Linked DNA regions of Homo sapiens. The protein of the gene in region 2 purifies or fractionates together with the protein of the main gene of each other region. This does not show direct contact. Each region holds a gene or a part of one and is shown on either strand. Other genes may lie near its edges.

Region 1 (4,883 bases), on a different chromosome or scaffold from region 2:
AGAAGGGGAAACTCAAAATTCAAGATGATGCATTAAGGATATGTTTTATAGAAGAAAATGACTTGGAAATTCACTCAGTGCACCCATCAAAAGACTGGTGAATTAAGTTATATATCAAGTATTATAAGTCTTTGATTAGAAAATATATTTCTAAAGGACAAATCACCCTAATCTCCATTGCATCAAAAGAGATGACTGCTTCTGAATTCTTAACTGTACAACTATAGTCATTGGCCTTTTCTCTCAGAGTTTTAGAACAAAGTCTTGCCACTATCTACTCTTCACCTCTCCAAATCCCAACACTCACCATTAAGAACAGCCACTCCAGCTCCTCGCCTAGCCACATTCATGGGTGCAATTAAAGTCCAGGTATTATTTTCAGGATTGTATCGTTCTACTGTGTTCAGACAATTCCAAGATTCTGCACCTCCGATTATGTACAAATAACCACCAAGCTCACAGACTGCAGACTGGTGTCTCCCTACAAGAAAAGTCAAGTCAAGATTATTGCTACATCTCCCAGACTCTAAGTGTATACTACACATACTGTTGATTTGAAGGTCTTTAAAAAAAAAAAGGAAAAAAAATCAACTTACGAATGTTAAGAGGGGCACAGCTTGTCCACAACTTTGTTACAGGATCAAATACATCACAATTTTTCAGTCCTTTTTGACCATATGGATCAGAGCCACCAACGATGTATAACTTTCCATTCAGAGCACACACTCCTATGTAAGTATAAAATAAAGTTACATATTGATAATTTAATTATCATATTTAAATACTGGATATCTCAGGAGAAAACTATTATTACCTGCATTACAACGGTTAGTTCTCAATTCTGGAACAGGAATCCAGTCATCTATGTTTGAATCATACATCTCTCCACAACTCAGGTCATCTGAGTGGCCATTTGATCCACCTACCACATAGAGCTGGCCCTATGCCAAAAGTGAGAGATGAGAATTTCTAACATCCTGAAGTTACGAGGAAAAAGCTAAATAGGGGTTGCTCCTGCAACATAATGCGCTTACCATGAGTACAGCCATTTGAAATCGGGCTCTTGGTGTTCTCATGGGAGCAAGAAAGGACCAGTGATCTGTATGTGGATTATAGCATTCGACTGTTCGAAGACATTCCTCTCTGTTATAGCCACCTGGTAAAAAATAAAACCATAAAGATTTATGTTTAAAATATTAAACTGGACCACGGTTTCCAGTCCTGTAAGTTTAAGAAATCTGCACAATGAGAAAAAGTATTAAAACTTTTTAAGGATGCCTTAGTTGATCTTTTAACTAAGTGCTTGTAATAGCTGAAAAATCGCATTATCAGTACAAATAAACTGCTTAGTCTTGGCTTGAATATTAGAAAAATTTAGCCATGACATAATTTTTTTAAAAATTAGATACAGACATTGAACTGAAGGTTAGCCATATTCAATAGTATTGTTATTTCCCTATCTTATTGGATTGCCGTGAAAGATGGCATATTAAACCCTCTCTTTGAAAGTTTGCATGTCACAAAAATGCCCATCTACATGCTTAGCCAGTTGAATGCTTCTGTTCTTACCTGCAGCTATGAGTTTGCCATTCATCTCTGCTGTTCCCAGACCAGATCGTGCGTACTGCATAGGAGACATGGGCTTTTCGATTAGCTCATCTTGTTGCATCTCAAAGCTTAAACTCTTACTTAGTTTTGGAGTACTTGTTGGTGAGCTCTGTGGGCTGTTTCTCCCATGAAGAAAAATGACACAGAATATACCATCCAGCACAGCCAGGCACAAGTAAGTGTTATCTGTAAGCACAAGAGTTCCATGTTTAAGATGTAATTATTACTTTTGGTTTGTGTATATGATCCTGAATTGGACTCCAGTCTCCACATCCCAGACTGGAACAATCTGCTCTCGTTTTCCAAATTTAATTGCTTCTGAGTTTTTTCCTCGAGTAGTCAATTTAAGAGGTATTAAATTGGCAACACTCCTTCTTAAAAATAGGTAAGCTGAAAACAATCTGGCAAGTGTCATATACTTACTTGAAGTCTTTTCTGAAGCAACGATTTTCCACTCATGCTTAGGGCTTTGTACTGTAGCATTTGGAGAAGAGAGACATCCAGTTGAACTGCTACTTATCTGCTTATGGCCATTCTCACGTGGTGGCTTTTTCTGCAAAATCAAAAGGTAGCTACAGAAACCTAGCCAAAGACCACATCTGATGTACCTTTGTTCCTGAGCTATTCCACAACACTGAGTATCCTTCACCTATATATGACATTTATAGGACACTAACTTTAACTCAAGCCAACACTTTCCAAATGACACAAATTACTGGCATACTTCCATCTCCACTCAATGATGAGACAACTACGCCTACACAATTAGCCTAGGTAAGAAAAAGCTCAGTTTTAACAATTTGAAAAACATGTTGCAAATCAAGACCTCAGCAGAAGAAAAAACCAATCTATAATTATTTTTATATTAAGTATAGAATCTTTTAAAAGAATGCTATAAATTTAAAATAGTGTGAATTAACAGAGAATACATTTAACCCACTATTTTCATGAAATTGTCAAACCTAACTAAATCATATGTACAGGTATCCTTCATACAATGCCAGCAAAACGTAAGCAGATATAGATTCATCCAGTTTCTCTGAAAGTACTTGACAGGAAAAAAGTGGCAATTACAAGAAACACTTAAAGAATATTTCTTTAGGATTACCTTATAGGTATTATAGAGTGGTTTTCTAGACAAAATTACATCAAAACACAAGAAAATAGTAATCAGAAATGAAACATTACTAAAAACAACCAAATATTCACAAAAGTAGAATATACAGGAATACTAAAGAGGGAGAAATGAACAAAGCTGCCAATTTCCAAATGATTGTAAGAGAACTACTTTACACATGTGTTCTCATGTATGAGTTTTCCTTGATGGCTTCCTTCCAATTACTTTAGCCTTTGCCACTTCCAAAGGATATGATCATATGGAATTGGAAGAGTAAAGACTACTCTGAGAGGAACTGCCAAATGAACAGGTAGCAACTTCAGCACCTGGCCTAGTTTGCTCATCCCACTTGTGCTGGTCCAGATGGCCAGAACACATGGATAGGTAAAATTTCTAATGGAAATTTCTGTTGCTAGTGGAAGCAAAAAGCCATATAACAAGTAATTGAGAAAAAGATTTTGCTAGCTACTTGAAGCTATTAAGAAAAAGCTATATCAAAAGTTAGGCCTGAGTGTGGTTACAACATACGTAGGCTATTTTGAGAAAAGGCAGGGAATGTATCATTATCAATGGTTATGATTAAATTCCACTTAGATGTTTACTATGTACCTAGGTATTACTAGGTACTTTATTTACATCATCTCTTTTAGTCCAGTGAGGGTGATATTATCTACCCATTTTATAGATAAAAATATTGAAACTCAAGAAGATATGCATTGCCCAAGGCAATACAACTAAAATAAAGATTAGGAATTATGAAGATAAACCCCATCCTTTTTATACTATGACAAGTTATGTCATACTATAAAACAGATTTACACTATGACAGGCTGTTTTCCACTGTTACTAAAGTTGTGAATGCATCTTTCATATCACTTTTATACTATGAATATTAAGAATAAAAAATAAGGTTAGACTTATCTAACCTTATCTATTATTATGAATTACAAGGTACATAAAACCTCATCCCAACCTATGGGAAGAAGGGATCCAAATATCACAAATGGATGATGCTTACATTGAGGCTGTACTGAAGTAAAAAAACTGTTCTAATGTACAAACTATAATTAAGAGAAAATGACTGTGAAAGAGAAAGGCCCAAAAGCAATGCCTAATAACAAGCCTAATATAGAAATGCTGATTAAATCCTTTATATGTAAAGAATATATCCCTAAACCTTATTTTACATGACCTCCCAGAGAACTTGACAGTGTTTAGTCCTCCTTCAAACTTTCTTCTCCTACCTTAGGTAGCTTTTACAACATGATTAGATTCTTATTGTCCTCTGACTTTTCTAATGGCTTCTTCTCAACCTCCTTTTTCTATTCCTGAAGTCTAACATGTGTCCCTCGCATCCTCTTCATGATCTCTATTCATGGCATCACATTCTAATGAGTCACACATGTCAGAATCCCACTTATTCTCAAATTCTTTCTTTTCCCTAATCTTGCTAAGCAATCACTAAGGCCTGCTAAGTCAACCTTTGTAAATATAAATGTCTATTTATATATAGACATAAATAAAAAATCTATCCTTTCTCCTTCATGCCCCTAGATTAATCCCTCATCATTTTTTTAAAACCTGAACTACTGCTGGCAATAGTCTATAAACTGGGCTCAAACTTTTATTGATTTTCTGTGTCTGGTTATAAAAATAGGAAGGGTCCAAGGCAACAATTTTAGAAAATAAAACCAGAAATCAGTTGGGATATTCCAGCCCAAAGACTGCCACCTAATAGACTGTTCCCCAGTTTTTCACCATTACTAAAGTGAATGCAAAACTTTCGTATCACTGTATTCTTACCTAAGGCTTCCCACTGCCTATAGGATAAAGTATAAGCCCCATTCAGGGAGCATTTACCTACTTTCCCAGTCTTATGACCTGCAATTCCAAGAGTATCATCCTCACAGATACTCTTTGCTAACACCTCTCCCTTTATCTGCTATGCAGACTCCTCTAAATCCTAACACTGCTCAAAAGTTACCTCTTGTGTGAAATATCCCTGGCTTCTCTCCTGTCTCACTGTGTCCTCTCCTTTAGGCCTTTCGTAGCTACCTCTTATAAGCCTGTATTGTTTTGCCCACTCTTAGAAGGTCCTACAAGCAGAAACTGTCTCTTACACATTTTTGTGTTGCCATACCGAACATTATGGCCTGCC
Region 2 (4,883 bases):
TGTAAGGAAATCATAAAATTGCGGGCTGGGCGCAGTGGCTCATGCCTCTAATCCCAGCACTTTGGGAGGCCAAGGCAGGCAGATCACAAGGTCAAGAGTTCGAGACCAGCCTGCCAACATGGTGAAACCCCGTCTCTACTAAGAATACAAAAAGTAGCCGGGTGTGGTGGTGACTGCCTGCAATCCCAGCTACTCAGAAGGCTGAGGCAGCAGAATAGCTTGAACCCGGGAGGTGGAGGTTGCAGTGAGCCGAGACTGCGCCACTGCACTCCAGCCTGGGCGACAGAGCAAGACTCCGTATTGAGAAAAAGAAAAATGCTGGCTGGGCGTGGTGGCTCATGTCTGTAATCCTAGCACTTTAGGAAGCCGAGGTGGATCATTTGAGGCCAAGAGTTCGAGACCAACCTGGCCAACACAGCAATACCCCATCTCTATTTAAGTACATATTCAGTTTTTTTAAAAAAAAGAAAAATGCTTACGTGACCATCTTCTTGTCTAAGAAATACTGATCCTTTTTGGCACCAATAACTCTTCGAAGTGAAACTTCCTCTTTATCGATCTAAGAAAAAATGTAAAAGCCCACAGTTAATTTAATAGTAAAGGAGAAAACTTTTTAAATAAGGTCATTTTAAAGTCCTTGCCCATAAGTATTTATTTTAAAATTTCAATTATCTCACTAAAAATAATACTACAAATACTCAATACTCTTAACCAAGACACTTTTCACAACAGTTTGTACATTCCCATTTGTTAACAGAGTATTCATTGTCATTTTAAGATAAAATCAGTATATAAACTGTAATTATAACAAATTATAAAAGCTTAAAAAGTTTCAAAGTATGAAGAAAATCAGCTAAACCAATTAAATTCTCAACATTACTTTAAAAAAAAAGTTACTTACTGGTAACCGGTTGTCTGAATTATCAAAAATAATCTCCACAAAAGCAGAAATAACACGAGGACCAGTACCTTCCTAAAAATGAAAGAAGTGAGAAATTTGCCATTTAAGTTGTATATTCATATCCTTTAAAGGATTCTTAAAGTCTAGGGCATAATAACAAGTCTGATTCAATGGAGAAAAATTTCTGCTAGATTCATATATACACACACACACTAATCTAACGTCTCTGCTCTTTTGGCAAGAGGGATACATACTTTGGGGATATCCCCAGAGTTATAGTATATATCCCTCTTGCCAAAACAGCAGAGACGTTAGATTAGGACAACAAAACTTCTCAACCAAATAGCTTTTGATTCTAAATAAAAAATAAGAGCTATGCAAGACATGTCAAAGTTAGATATCCTTAAATATGATTCTACAGACCACTTTATTAGACTGCAAGACTGGGGACATTTAACTCTACCTATTTGCTAATATCTAATACACCATGAGGCTTTTCTCTTACAGTCTCATTTTAATGCTGCAAAGAAATCCTAATAAATCATGGGATAATTACCAAAAGTCTGTTTTTTAAGAAAAATTGAGACATTCTACAGTTTTAAATCTATTATAGAAATATACACATTTAACATGTGTCACATTTAAACCAATCTATGACACAAAAACTATGGTACCAAGTCCAGATACCTTCCAGATTATAGAAACTATGTAGTAAATACAATGAAGAACTGTACCAAAGAGGTTATTAATTATTTTAATGCCAATCTGAAAAACCTAAAAAGAATTTTTCTAAAGGAAATCAATTCTGATTACTGGGCTACAAATTCAAACTAAACAAGGGGAAAAGACAGACAAGAGCTAAACAAAACAATTTCCTATGTGTGAGAAACACTGTTAAGACATGTTGAGGAATTTCATTTTCTAGTCTTTAATAAACAATATTCAAATCAGAAGGATTAATCGTTTTATTGTAGTCTTTCATGATTTTCTATCCTAAAATTACTTTAGTCCATTACTCATATTTTTTTCCACATCACATTGGTAATGTGCCAATGTCCTAACAAGGTTTGAGGGAGGCATGACTCACATGAACACGAAAACCCAATCATCGTGCTTATGCATTACAAAAGGACCCACTTAATAAAATATCCTAACTCACATTACTGTAAATATACAGGTGGTCCCCAACTTACGATGGTTCAACAAATGGCTGAATGACAACGTGATAGCAGTCTACATTCAGTAGAAACCATAATTTGAGTATCCATAAAATCACTGTTTTTTACTTTCAGCATAGTATTCAATAAATTATATGACAGATTCAACACTTTATTATAAAACAGACTTTTGTGTTAGATCATTTTGCTCAACTGTAGGCTAATGTCCATTTTTGACTTATGGTATTTTCAGTTTATGATAGGTTTATTAGGACATAACCCCGCTGTAAGTTGCAGAACATCTCTACTGTTTTTCATACTGGAAAATGATGTTTACTATCTAAGTACAAATATGGCTAAAACAACAAACAACTTGTATGTTGTTTAGTTTGCAATGGTTGTTTCTCTATGTTCCCAATTAATTTTTGGTTCTGCATCTTAAAGTTCCTAATCTGCAACCTCAAACTCTTCTTTCTCCTCAGCAAACCTGCTTCTTAAGCCTTTGCAGATCACATCCTTAAAGAAATGTACATGGAGGACATACCCACCTATAGGCAAATCCTATAATTTTCTCCTAACCATCACATAAAAATTAGGCCTTTATCTGGCATTAACATGTTAGGCTAAATTTCACAGCAGAATAAAACACTTATGATATATATCATGTCTCCTTTAAGACATTTATATGGAGGACATATCCATCTATAGGCAAATCCTATAATTTTCTCCTAAACCACTGTATAAAAATTGGGCTTTTATCTGGCATTAATATGTTAGGCTAAATTTCACAGCAGAGTAACACACTTATGAGAAAGATTGTGTCTTGTTCACAAAGAATCTGAAACTTGAACAAATGCTTTTTTAACCAGCATGGAAAATTTATTTTTAAAATATATGTAATATCAATAATGTCTTAAAGCAGTCTCACTCACATGCAATAAAGCCAACCGCTGTTCTGGACGAAGATGACTAAACTCATCACTGAGAACAAACTGAATTGCTGGAAATACAAAAACAACTATTAGTATACCCTAAAAAAGTGTTTATAACTTATTTATAACTTCCCACACCTCAATAGAACATAGTGTGTCTGGTAATAGACAATGCAAATAAATTATCTGTTTCATATGGACAAAAGGAAATGCAGAAAATGTGCCTGCACATCAGACTAATCAGGTAGGAAATGATATAAGAAAAATACTGAGAAGTTTTCATTGAAACATTTAAGGTAAGGAAATAAAGAGAAACCACCGAAATACATGAAAACAGACAAGCAAAACTAAGGTATACCTCTGGCTCAAAGTGTTCACTGACTGGATTAGGTTAACACTGTATTTGCTTTTTTCCCCACTAGACATAAATGATATGAGTTAAAATCCTTTTTAACAAAATAGGATGTATTTTGAGAATATGCTTAAGTGGATACTTTACCAAAAGAAATAAAACTAAGGAAATACAGGGAAATGTTTGAGATGCCCAACTTATACTACACTTCTTATACTATACCGAGCTCTGTAAGAAGGGGCCGTTCCTACTTCGGTATAGAGTACCTAACTGGACCACCCTGCCTAGGAAGTGGAACTCTTTACTCAGCTGTTCTTGTCCCAGTCCACCCAAGAGACCTCTGGCACTGTGTGTGTGTGGAGGTGGTGGGGGTGCCCACATCAGCAAGTACGTGCATAAGCATTAATGTGTGTGCTGTGGACACAGGTCGAGGTGAGGAGACTTCACACTGCCCTGGAGATTCTGAAATACTTCCACTTCAGTCCATTCTCTCATCATTGCCAAATTACAACCACAATAGGATATACAGGCTAGAGAGTGCCTTTCAGATTCGTGTGCACAGAAGAGATAGAACCTTTGTTCTTACTAAGCCAGTCCACTAAATGCCCCTTTCCCTCAAGCATTACCCAACTAAAAAGTTCAAATTTTTCAACCTACTCCTTAACTGTCTAATTTTGTTAAAATGTTTTTCTCCTCAAAGGATTTGTTAACAGACGCATTGCTATTTACACTTAAATGCAATTTAGAGAGAATTTTTGAAGCTCTATTTACTATCTTCAAAGTGACAACAGTCTGTTCAGTTTCAAGTTTTTTATACCTCTTCATCCTTTACAAAGATGATTGGTTTAGAAAACGTTTTCAAAAAGGTGAAATAAGAAAGATGAACAATTTTCCAAAACAATACTATCAACTATTCTACTGCATTTACATACGTTTAAAATATGCATTTATAACATTTATATATTACATTCAAGTTTAAAAAGCATTTTCATACATACTATTGCATTCCATTCTTACAAACCATCTAAGGTAGACAGGGCAAACATCCAAACATCTCCATTTTTAAAGTGAAAAGAAAAATTTGAGAGGCTACGTGTTTTGCCCACTCTCACACAGCTAATCAGCCACTGGGTATAAAGCAGAATTCAGATCTGTATACTCTAAACCCTCTACACTAAGCTGCAACCCCATATAAAGTATTTCTTGGGTTTCATGAATACATAACCTCAGAAAATTAATGATTTTAATAATCTACCCTAAGATACCCAGGTCTTAATATATTTACAATTCAAAAAGCAACACCTACCATAAAAAAAGTTACTTTTTCCAGATCCATTTCTGCCCACTGGAAAATTTCAAAAAGTACAAGTTATTTTACATAAAAACCAATAAAATTAAAACTGTTTACCTTTTTAAAAATACTCAATATTTTTAAAATCCAATTTTCTAATACATCTTAACATCTGAAATTAAACAGTGAACAAAAGAAACCAATAAAACAACTATAATCACCAAATAAATTCAATTTTTGTACAGACTTC
Region 3 (4,883 bases), on a different chromosome or scaffold from region 2:
CTTCCTATCACATCTCCACACTCGCAGGAGGCACCACCTCAGGCAGCTCTGTCTTCTCGGCAAGGACCTGTGCACAGTCAGCCCTGGGGGGAGCCTGTCCCCCAAGCCTGGCACGGGATCCCAACTCAGCAGCTTTGGGACCTCCGAGACCCAAAGATCTGCCTGGTCACCCACCCCTGCCCAGATCCCTGGTGTAGGGCACTGGAGAGCAGTTTCAGGGGAGGAAGGGGCAGAGGTGGTAGAATGGGGGATCCCGGCAGAGGCAGCCCTGGGGCCGTCTCCTCGGGGTTGGTAGGCTAGTGCCATGGGCCCAGGACCCAGCCATCCATGGGAAGACGGCCTCATGGCAGAAACTTCCATCTGTTCGAAATGGCTCTTTCTTTTTCCCCTTCTCCAGCACTAGCGCACCTGCGCTCTCTTTCTCTTTTTCTCCCCTCTCCCTCCCCCTCCCTGTCTCCCCTCACCCCCCAAGTGTAGCCTGTGTAGTCCTGGCCCTGGGTGTGGCCTGGCAGTGTCAGGGCCGAGTGGGGGTTTCTCCCCACTGTCCGGCAAGCGTCGGTCAGCCGAACACTGTGTGCCTGGTGGTGTGTGTTCACATGTGTGCGTGCGTGTGCCCGGCAGAGCAGCAAACAGCTGCGCCCGAGAGCTGTGGCGCTTTCCCTCCCTACCTCCCTTCTTCCCTCCATCCGCTCTCCGACCTCCCTCCGTTCCCTGTCCCTCATCCATCCAGCTGAAGGGCTCGCTCACTCTCTTCTCCTATGCTGAAACGGTGCGTGGGGCACTGCTGCCTGGACCTCACTGTGCTCTGCTTTTTCCCGCAGCACTCCCTCAACATCCTGGGCCAGAAGGTGTCGATGCACTACAGTGACCCCAAGCCCAAGATCAATGAGGACTGGCTGTGCAATAAGGTACAGGGGCGGTGGGCAGCAGTTGTCATGGACAGAGACAGCAACAGCAGTGGCGGCGATCTCTCCCTTCCTCTCCCGCTCTTTCTCCCTCCATCTCTCCCCCTCCCCCAATCTCTCCTCTCCCTCTGTCTCTCTCTCTCTCTCTCTCTCTCTCTCTCATTCTCTATCCCTTGCTAGCTCAGCTTGAGTAGTCACCATTCCTAGCCAGCCATATACAAATGTGTAGTGAGCGTTCACTTGGTGCAGGCTCTGTCCTCCTAAAATGCAGTCTTGCCTGGAGTTCCAGTAGACTTTAAGGAAATATATACGTGGATGATGAATTAGTGACAGTGTAGACTTGAAGTGGTGGTGTGGAGAATGTGGGCTTCAGAGCCAGACTGGCTGAAATGAGACTATCCCAGATCGGCCTTGATTTTGGCCAAGGTGCTTAGCCTCTCTTTGCCTCACTTTCCCCATCTCTAAAATGTGAATATTAATGACACCTCTCCCAAAAGGTGGTTGGGAGGATTCAGCTGTGTTAATGAGAGAGTAACACTCAGAACAGTGCCTGGCCCACATTTAACACAGTCGAATTGTTAACTGTAATCATGAAAGAAAAGCACAGAGCGTTCTGAGAGCCCATAGCAGGTAGCTCAAGCCTGAAGGCCACTCTGACCAGGCCAAGTCAAACCTGAAACTGGAGGCTGTGGTTTTGTAGTCACCTCTGTCTTCCCTGAGGGGAAGCTGAGGCTCAGAGAGGTGGAACCATGGGTGAACCTTTAGCTGTGCCCTGTGCCTTGCTCCTGATCACAGGGACTTGGATGCCACAGTGGCTTCAGGTCTGCCCTGGGGCCAGCATTGTGATTCCACAGTTTGTAGAGGCCCCAACCCTCTCCCCAGGAAGTACTCTGCCTAGTCAGGGAGAGTGGTGCATCTGTTTTAAAAAAAAAAGTCCCATCAGAGGATTGGTGCTTAACATTTCTGGAGAGATAAAGACAAAGTGACAGTGGAACTCCTTCCTGTGTTTCCAGATAGCCTCAAAACCAGGGAATTCTCTTTTTTTTTTTTTTGAGACAGGATCTGGCTCTGTCGCCCAGGCTGGAGTGCAGCAATCTGGGCTCACTGCAACCTCTGTCTCCAGCGCTCAAGCCATCAGCCTCCAGAGTAGCTGGGACCACAGGCGCATGCCACCACACCCACTAATTTTTGCCTTTTTATTTTTATTTTTTTTGGTAGAGACAGGGTTTCGTCATGTTTGCCAGGCTGGTCTTGAACTCCTGAGCTCAAGCAGTCCTCACGCCTCAGCCTCCCAAAGTGCTGGGATTACAGGCGTGAGCCACCACGCCCAGCCCAAAACCAGGGAATTCTCTTGAACTCCTTCCCCTCCCCTGCATCCTGTTGGCCACCAGGTCCTGTCACTTCCATCACAGAAACGCCACCTTCCCTCCCTCGCCATTCCCGCTGCTCATGCCAATCGTCACGCTCTCACCCACTCACTGTGGAGCCCTCTCTGGTATGCTGGCCTCTTGTCCTCTTTCTCCCACGCCCTCACCTGGAACATTCCTCAAAACCACCTCTGACTACCCACGCCTCTCCTCCTCTGCTTAACCAGCCCCAGCTCAGCTTAAGCATAAGATCCTCCATTACCTAACTGGCTTCCTTCCCCGGCCTTGGCTTTTGCTTCTCCCCTTACTCTCCCACACCAGTTTCGGAAAGTCCATTGTTCCCTCCGATAACAATCCCTCCCCAGCAAGGCTTAACAAAATGAAACTTCTGGGCATCCCAGGTCAAACCTCCCTGCTTCTGTGCAGGGACTGTCCCTGCCGAGTAAATGGCACCCCACCCCCAGCCCATTTCCCTCCCCGAGCCCCTGCTGGATGGTCCATGCAGACCGACCTGCCCCTCTTCATGCTGCATCTGCCCCTGTGCTATTAGGCCATGAGGGCAGAGACCATGTTCTGGCCATGTGCAGCAGGGCCTGGCCCAGGAGTGGTGCTTAGTACCTGAGTCTGGAACAGAGATGGAGTGTGGTAGAAGCTGGGTCTCCAGATGCTGGAACATTCAAGGAAAATTTCTCAAGCGTAGCAGGATCCAACCCAGTCCTAGAGCTAAGAGGAGGGGTGCGGGTCTGGCTACTGACTTCTAGGGCTGAAACACTGAAAGGTTTCTGAATAGAGGAGCAAGTTTCAGGGAGAGGAACCTAATAAAGGGATTGAATACCTGAGGCGGGGAACAGTCCTGGGAGTTGGTGGCCTTAAGAAGGCAGAGGAAGGAGAGGAGGGAGTTGTTGTACCAAATGGGGGAGTTGTTTATTCCTGAGCTGAGTGGGTTGGCACAGAGGACAAATGAGAGTCTGGAAAGGGAAGATGCACAGTACTGAGAACAACATCAGAAGGTTCAGAAGGCACCTGCCACCATTGCCTAGGGGCTTTCCTTCCTGGGGCACTGCGGGGTCCCTGGGAGATCTCTTCATCCAAGTTTGGAGGGTGCAGTGGGAAATCCCTGCTCCCTCTGACGGCCTGGCCTGTGCCTCACAGTGTGGCGTCCAGAACTTCAAACGCCGAGAGAAGTGCTTCAAATGTGGCGTGCCCAAGTCAGGTGAGGCCCACCTACCTCTCGTGCTCTCCAGGGCGGAGCGGTTGGGGAGAAGGGAAGGGTGAGGGGTCTGTGCTCAGGGCTTGGTATAGGGAGGAGGGTGACCAGTCGTGGAGCCTTCCCCTTATCACCAGCCTGTCTCCCACTGCCCCTGACAGAGGCAGAGCAGAAGCTGCCCCTCGGCACGAGGCTGGATCAGCAGACACTGCCACTGGGTGGCCGGGAGCTGAGCCAGGGCCTGCTTCCCCTGCCGCAGCCCTACCAGGCCCAGGGAGTCCTGGCCTCCCAAGCCCTGTCACAGGGCTCGGAGCCAAGCTCAGAGAACGCCAATGACAGTGAGTCAGTTGTTCCTTCTTCCTCTGTGCCCTAGGGTGTCGGGCTGGGCTCACCAAGACCAGAGAAATGGCAGTGAGCAGGACCTCATCCTCATGGAATCTCCACTTGGTGCGGGGATAGACATTTGATGTAGGGAGAACAGGGGGAGTGGCAACATCCCACCTGACTTTGGGGGTGTGTCGGGAAGGTTCTCAGCAGACAGGCAGCCAGGCTGGCACCTGGACCGCCAAGCAGAGTTGATCCTGGAGGAAGCAGTGAGGGAAGCGGCAGTTGCAAAGGCACGGAGTGAGTGGGGGCAGAGGAAAGGGAGCAGTGGGGGCATTGAAGGGCAGGGCTGGCAAGAGTGCCAGGGGTGTCCTCTAACATTGGGCCCCTTCCCACAGCCATCATTTTGCGCAACCTGAACCCACACAGCACCATGGATTCCATCCTGGGGGCCCTGGCACCCTACGCGGTGCTGTCCTCCTCCAACGTGCGCGTCATAAAGGACAAGCAGACCCAACTGAACCGCGGCTTTGCCTTCATCCAGCTCTCCACCATCGTGGTGAGGGCGGCACAGTTGGGGGCCGGGCAGCCAGGGTCCCGGCCCCCGGGGTGGAGACGAGGGTCCTTTTCCCCAGCCTCCCACCGCGGCTGCCAGCCTGGAAATCGGGCAATGGAGCCGGGGGCCTCCCCGGGCCTGACCCTTCTGTCCCTGCCTCCCCTCCTCCCACAGGAGGCAGCCCAGCTGCTGCAGATCCTGCAGGCCCTGCACCCACCACTCACTATCGACGGCAAGACCATCAATGTTGAGTTTGCCAAGGGTTCTAAGAGGTCAGGGCCCCACCTGTGTGCCTTCCCACCCTTCCCCTCCCCACCCTCCCACTCCCCCCTACCGCTTGGGGCCTCCTATCTCACTCCCAGTCTCTAACATCCTCCTCAGGGACATGGCCTCCAATGAAGGCAGTCGCATCAGTGCTGCCTCTGTGGCCAGCACTGCCATTGCTGCGGCCCAGTGGGCCATCTCACAGGTACTCAGACCCCTTGTGCCTCCCAGCGTCCTGAGACCTGGGCTTTCTCAACCCT
Region 4 (4,883 bases), on a different chromosome or scaffold from region 2:
TCCTCCACTACTGGTAATTTCCTTGAACACATCACCTCTGTGCAGTCACATCTCATGCAGTCACTTCTGCCTTGAACAGCCAGTGTCTCTTAGCCTGGCTGACCCCTTTCAACATTTAAGCATCAACCTAGTTTCACCTCTTCCAGGAACACTTCTCTTGAACATGTGAGTCTATAGACCCACAGGCAGAGAGCTTCTCAGGTCCTGTACCTTTCTGTCCCACCAACAGTGAGTGACCTCCAAGCCGTGAACCTCCCTAGTGCTTATAGAGGAGATAGAGGGTGGGCCAGGAATTCCCTTTGAATTCCTAATCCCTAATTGTCTGCCTCACAAGCAGCAACCAGGACCTCAGAGCCCTCCTTTCCCCATTTTGAAACAGGAGAAATTGGTCAATCTGCCATCCCTGAGGAGGCAAGGAAGAAAATGTGTCTCTTTTTCTTTCTGAGAAAACCTCAGCTGGACAGAGGACACGTAGGACATACTTGGGTTCATGGGCAGGGCCTTCTTTGGACAGGAGACGGAATTCGCAGGAGTTCCCCAATTTGTGCATACACTCAAGCAGTGTGGTGACGGGGCTCTTCCCAGAAAAGAAGGATGTGGCTGAAGGGGTGGGGGTCTGGGACTCTGCAGTCTAGAGAAAATGAGAGACAAGAAGAAAACAAAACTAAGAAAACACTGGTTAGTCCATCACAGAAGAAGGGATGGGGATGGGGGACTTTATTCCCACCACCTGTCAAGGGGTTGGCTTCCCAAAGTTAAAGGGGCTGCTGGAGCTCTCATTCCGCATCTTCCAAGAGAGGAGATTGGCCTCAATAAACTTTCAGGTCTCTTTCAAGTCCGAAATTCTGTAAATCCAATTATGTTGGGACAGGAGCAGACAGAGGAGCTGGGTATGAGAGGAGGAAAGGTGGGCTGGCGAGATAGGGTAGAGGGAAGAGTGGGAAGCTGACTCCGAGATGGTGTCAGTTGTTTAGGCTGGGATTGCCTCAAGGGAGTCAGTTACAATCCAGACACTGACAGGGAACTGATCCTCCCAGATGGCAGGAGGACACCTACCTTCTCTGATTCTTTCTCTGTGGAATAGTGGGATGATTCTTCTGATTTTCCACTGTCCTTGGCTTTGGCTTCCTCTAGCAGAATTGTCATGGCTTTCATAGCTGCATCCTGCTTGGCCACTTTCTTGCTTCCAGCTTCAGCTGGGGGAAACTCTCGGCCATTGATGACAACCTGGAATTTAAATCTTGACGGAAAGTGATTAGATGTGTGAACAGGAGTCTAGGTCACTCCTTCTGCCTTCTCCAAAGAGACCTTCAACCTGGAATTTTCTGCTACGCTAAGGGGCTTTTCACTTGTGGAGATGAAGGGTAGGCCAAGGAACTCCTTCCTACTCCTTAAGGCTCAGCCTGTCCTTTCTTTTTGTAAACAAAGCAGCCAGTGACTCTTTCCCCATAGCTCAGTGAAGCAAACATAGGCACAGATGATAGGAAACTAGCTCAGGGGAAACCCACTATCTCTTTAACAATGAATTAAGATAAAACCCACACACACAAAAATGATGAGCCAAAAATTACCATTATAGTCTTGTGAGCAACCAAAAGACCTTCATTCTAAAGCAATTGTGGTAGACTGGCCTCCTCAAGGGAGGGTCCTAAAAGATAGTGAAGGCTTCTTATAACCCAGTCTCACACTCCCCACTACCTAGGGGGATCAGGCATCTGCCACTTATCAGTGGCCTGCTTTTGTCCCTAGACCTATATCACCGTAGTTTGTTATGAGTCACTCTATAGCACCATTTGTCTCCAGCTATTTTCTACATAACAAGGAATTTCCCCTTGTTATGTAGAAAATAAAAAAGCATTTGTTCTAGGCCTCTGGACTTAGCCTAGGCCCCCTTTGTTCAAGCTTTCAAATGTGGTGAGCTCTTTGCTCAGTCTGGGATTTCATTTAGAAAAGTAGGTCAAATTTCTTATTTCCTAGGTCTTCTGATATATTTGAACATGGCACCAATGTTTCTTTTAGTGTGAGTCCAAAGAATGACTAACCACAAAATCCACTGCTTTCCTCCAACTCTGGGGAGGAGGGATGGAGGCAAAAGAGAATGACGGCCATCCAGTCTCTACCCCAAACAATCCAGCTCTGGCCTTGCCAGCTTTTGGACAGACACAACTCCTTTTCTTAACCGCTCTCCTGAAATGCCAAATTGGTGTCATGAAGACAGTCAAGACAAGGAATAAGGGCCCTAGCCAGGAATCTACACCCCTAGAAACCAGGCTAGGTAAACATAAAGGTCAGTGGAATTCTCCCCCATCCTACTGGCTCTTTCCCTGGCTGCAGCTGCAGCCACTCAGCTTCAGTGGTTTTGCTCTCTGTTATGCCCTTCAGAAGCTCCTGTTTTCCTCAATCTGTCCACTGGCCTATTAGGACCTACAGTGCAGGGCCTGACCAGCTATCTGAGTGAGGTAAAGGCTGACTTCACAGCTCAGGAGTGGCAGCAAGTGCTAGCCTACCCATCTGTGCAGAGGAGGTTTATAAAATTAGAACCACCACCTTCAACAGGCAGGCAGCCGTGCACACGCTCCTCCATCCTTTCCCCCCAGGAGCTATGCAGAGGGGGGATTGTGGACCTGCTGCTGCTTAGCAGCACAACCCACCCCCACTGTGTATGCAGCCTGCCCCAACCCACCTGCTCCTGCACCTCTCTCAGAAAACGGCTTAGGGAGGAGGGGAAGGCCTACAGAAGGGAATTAAGTCTTCATTACCTCTGCCTTAGGAGGCAGGCATGATATTGATGCATGGAGATCAATCATGTTTTTCTTTTTTCTTTCTTTTTCCAAGATGGAGTCTCACTCTGTCGCCCAGGCTGGAGTGCAGTGGCGCCAATCTCGGCTCACTACAACCTCCACCTCCTGGGTTCAAGTGATTCTCCTGCCTCAGCCTCCCGAGTAGCTGGGATTACAGGCAAGCACCACCACCCCCAGCTAATTTTTGTATTTTTAGTAGAGATGGGGTTTCACCATGTTGGCCAGGCTGGTCTCGAATTCCTCACCTCATGATCTGCCTGCCTTGGCCTCCCAAAGTGCTGGGATTACAGTCGTAAGCCACCGCCCCGGCCCCCAAGACCAATCATTTCTTTCTTTTTTTTTTTTGAGATGGAGTCTTGCTCTGTGGCCCAGGCTGGAGTGCAGTGGCGCAATCTCAGTTCACTGCAACCTCTGCCTCCTGGGTTCAAGTGATTCTCCTGTCTCAGCTTCCTGAGTAGCTGGGACTACAGGTGCACGCCACCACGCCCAGCTAATTTTTGTATTTTTAGTAGAGACAGGGTTTCACCATGTTGGCCAGGCTGGTCTCAAACTCCTGACCTCGTGATATGCCTGCCTCGGCCTCAAAAAGTGCTGGGATTACAGGCATGAGCCACCGCGTACGGCCAAAACCAATCATTTCTAAAGAAGCTTCATTACAGCCAACAGAGTCAACCTCCCCCTTGTTCAGCCAAGATTCTGGCTGGTCCAAGGTCTATATTCCCTGCTCAATATCTGGAGAAAGGGCCAATCAAGGGGAATTTAGCTAAAAGGCAGAAGGGAAGGAGGAAAAGATAGGCGCCACCAAACAGCACTGCTCACAAATCAGCCAAGACTGCGTCAGGAGCAAAAGCACCTGACCCCAACCCTAGGTACAGTTCCTGGGTGGTCTCTTACCGAGGTTCATGGGGTGGTCCACTCTGCTCTATCATGTTGAACTCACAGGTTTGACTAGCGAACTGGGCATATTCTAACAGCCCGCTGATGGGGTTCTTCAGCTGGCACTCTGTCAGTTTCTTGTAGGGTGAACACCGTGGCAAGCCATGACTGTAGAAGGAGGGCATCTCCATGATGGCTCGAAACTCACCTGGTGCTGCGCGGATACTATTCAAGTCATCTGGGATGTCATCTGTGGCCCACTGGCCATTTTCAAAGTCAACATACCCTGCTTTTGAGGGGCCATTGTAATGAACAGGTGGTTTCAGTCTTGCTGGTTCTGGTCTGGCCTCTTGCCTGTTTTCTAACTTTATGACAGGTTCCTGCCCATTCTCCACTTTTTCTGTGGTTACCATGTTATTTGAGGCATTTGATGTGGGTATATTACAGGTGAGGAACTCTGCGTTTCTTTTGGTCTCAGGGATTGCAGCTGGAGCGGTTTCAGGAACACTGTTCGTATTTCTCTTGATTTGCATCCTCTCTCGCTTCTTGTCTGTCAAATGCCATATGGGAGGGGTTGTCCCTTGTCTATAGACATCCCCCTGCCTTTCCATGTCAATTAGCACAGCATTTATATCTCGGGCCTTGGTAAGGCCAATATTTTTAGCCAAATTCAGGGCAGAGGAGTCAGACACATTGAAGAGATAGTCGCAGATTTTCTCCTTGATCTCGGCCATGTCTAAAAACTCAAGAGGATCTTCCAAGGCAGATGTGGAGTTGCTGTCTTCAGGTTCCAAACCTGGGTCTGAGTTTGGGGATCCTTGGCTATGACTGTCTGGTCTTACCACTCCGCTGTGCTGGTTCCAAGCCTGAGCTGAGACTGCAATAAAAGGCTCAAGAAGATCTTCTGAGACAGATGTGGAGTTTCTGTCTTCCGGTTCCAAACTCGGGTCTGAGTTTGGGGCTCCTTGGCTATGACCGTCTGGTCTTACCACTCCGCTGTGCTGGTTCCAAGCCTGAGTGGAGACCGCGATTTTCCACAAAGGGGGTGTTCCTGCCTCTTTCTGTAGCTTGCCCTTCTTTGCCAGGGAGTATAAAACTCGATTGATTTCTTTCTTCGGAGTCCCAAGTTTCCCAGACAGATCATGTGCTGTGGTGGCCTTCCCTTCCCCAAGCTCTTCCAGGAACTTTAAGATCCTTTGTTCCTGA

Evidence for each region. Proteins that work in one complex are often made in the same cells at the same time.
Region 1: the proteins of SMC3 (region 2) and IVNS1ABP purify together in Homo sapiens (affinity purification with mass spectrometry, with the first as the bait; one large-scale study listed by BioGRID). This does not show direct contact.
Region 3: the proteins of SMC3 (region 2) and RBM10 purify together in Homo sapiens (affinity purification with western blotting; one study listed by BioGRID). This does not show direct contact.
Region 4: the proteins of SMC3 (region 2) and ADAR purify together in Homo sapiens (affinity purification with western blotting; one study listed by BioGRID). This does not show direct contact.

What each region holds. Positions count from the first base shown.
Region 1 is NC_000001.11:185,299,403-185,304,285, forward strand, and holds part of IVNS1ABP (influenza virus NS1A-binding protein), read right to left. Parts: intron 2,162-4,883; coding exon 2,032-2,161; intron 1,795-2,031; coding exon 1,570-1,794; intron 1,157-1,569; coding exon 1,035-1,156; intron 942-1,034; coding exon 815-941; intron 729-814; coding exon 597-728; intron 482-596; coding exon 308-481; intron 1-307. UniProt on the Homo sapiens protein: Involved in many cell functions, including pre-mRNA splicing, the aryl hydrocarbon receptor (AHR) pathway, F-actin organization and protein ubiquitination.
Region 2 is NC_000010.11:110,573,511-110,578,393, reverse strand, and holds part of SMC3 (structural maintenance of chromosomes protein 3), read right to left. Parts: intron 4,688-4,883; coding exon 4,649-4,687; intron 3,059-4,648; coding exon 2,991-3,058; intron 2,035-2,990; exon of another isoform or gene 1,933-2,034; intron 974-1,932; coding exon 902-973; intron 560-901; coding exon 480-559; intron 1-479. UniProt on the Homo sapiens protein: Central component of cohesin, a complex required for chromosome cohesion during the cell cycle. The cohesin complex may form a large proteinaceous ring within which sister chromatids can be trapped.
Region 3 is NC_000023.11:47,175,679-47,180,561, forward strand, and holds part of RBM10 (RNA-binding protein 10), read left to right. Parts: intron 1-821; coding exon 822-908; intron 909-3,424; coding exon 3,425-3,485; intron 3,486-3,640; coding exon 3,641-3,817; intron 3,818-3,867; exon of another isoform or gene 3,868-4,103; intron 4,104-4,201; coding exon 4,202-4,362; intron 4,363-4,533; coding exon 4,534-4,631; intron 4,632-4,740; coding exon 4,741-4,828; intron 4,829-4,883. UniProt on the Homo sapiens protein: Binds to ssRNA containing the consensus sequence 5'-AGGUAA-3'. May be involved in post-transcriptional processing, most probably in mRNA splicing. Binds to RNA homopolymers, with a preference for poly(G) and poly(U) and little for poly(A).
Region 4 is NC_000001.11:154,597,346-154,602,228, forward strand, and holds part of ADAR (double-stranded RNA-specific adenosine deaminase), read right to left. Parts: coding exon 3,696-4,883; intron 1,241-3,695; coding exon 1,057-1,240; intron 632-1,056; coding exon 483-631; intron 1-482. UniProt on the Homo sapiens protein: Catalyzes the hydrolytic deamination of adenosine to inosine in double-stranded RNA (dsRNA) referred to as A-to-I RNA editing.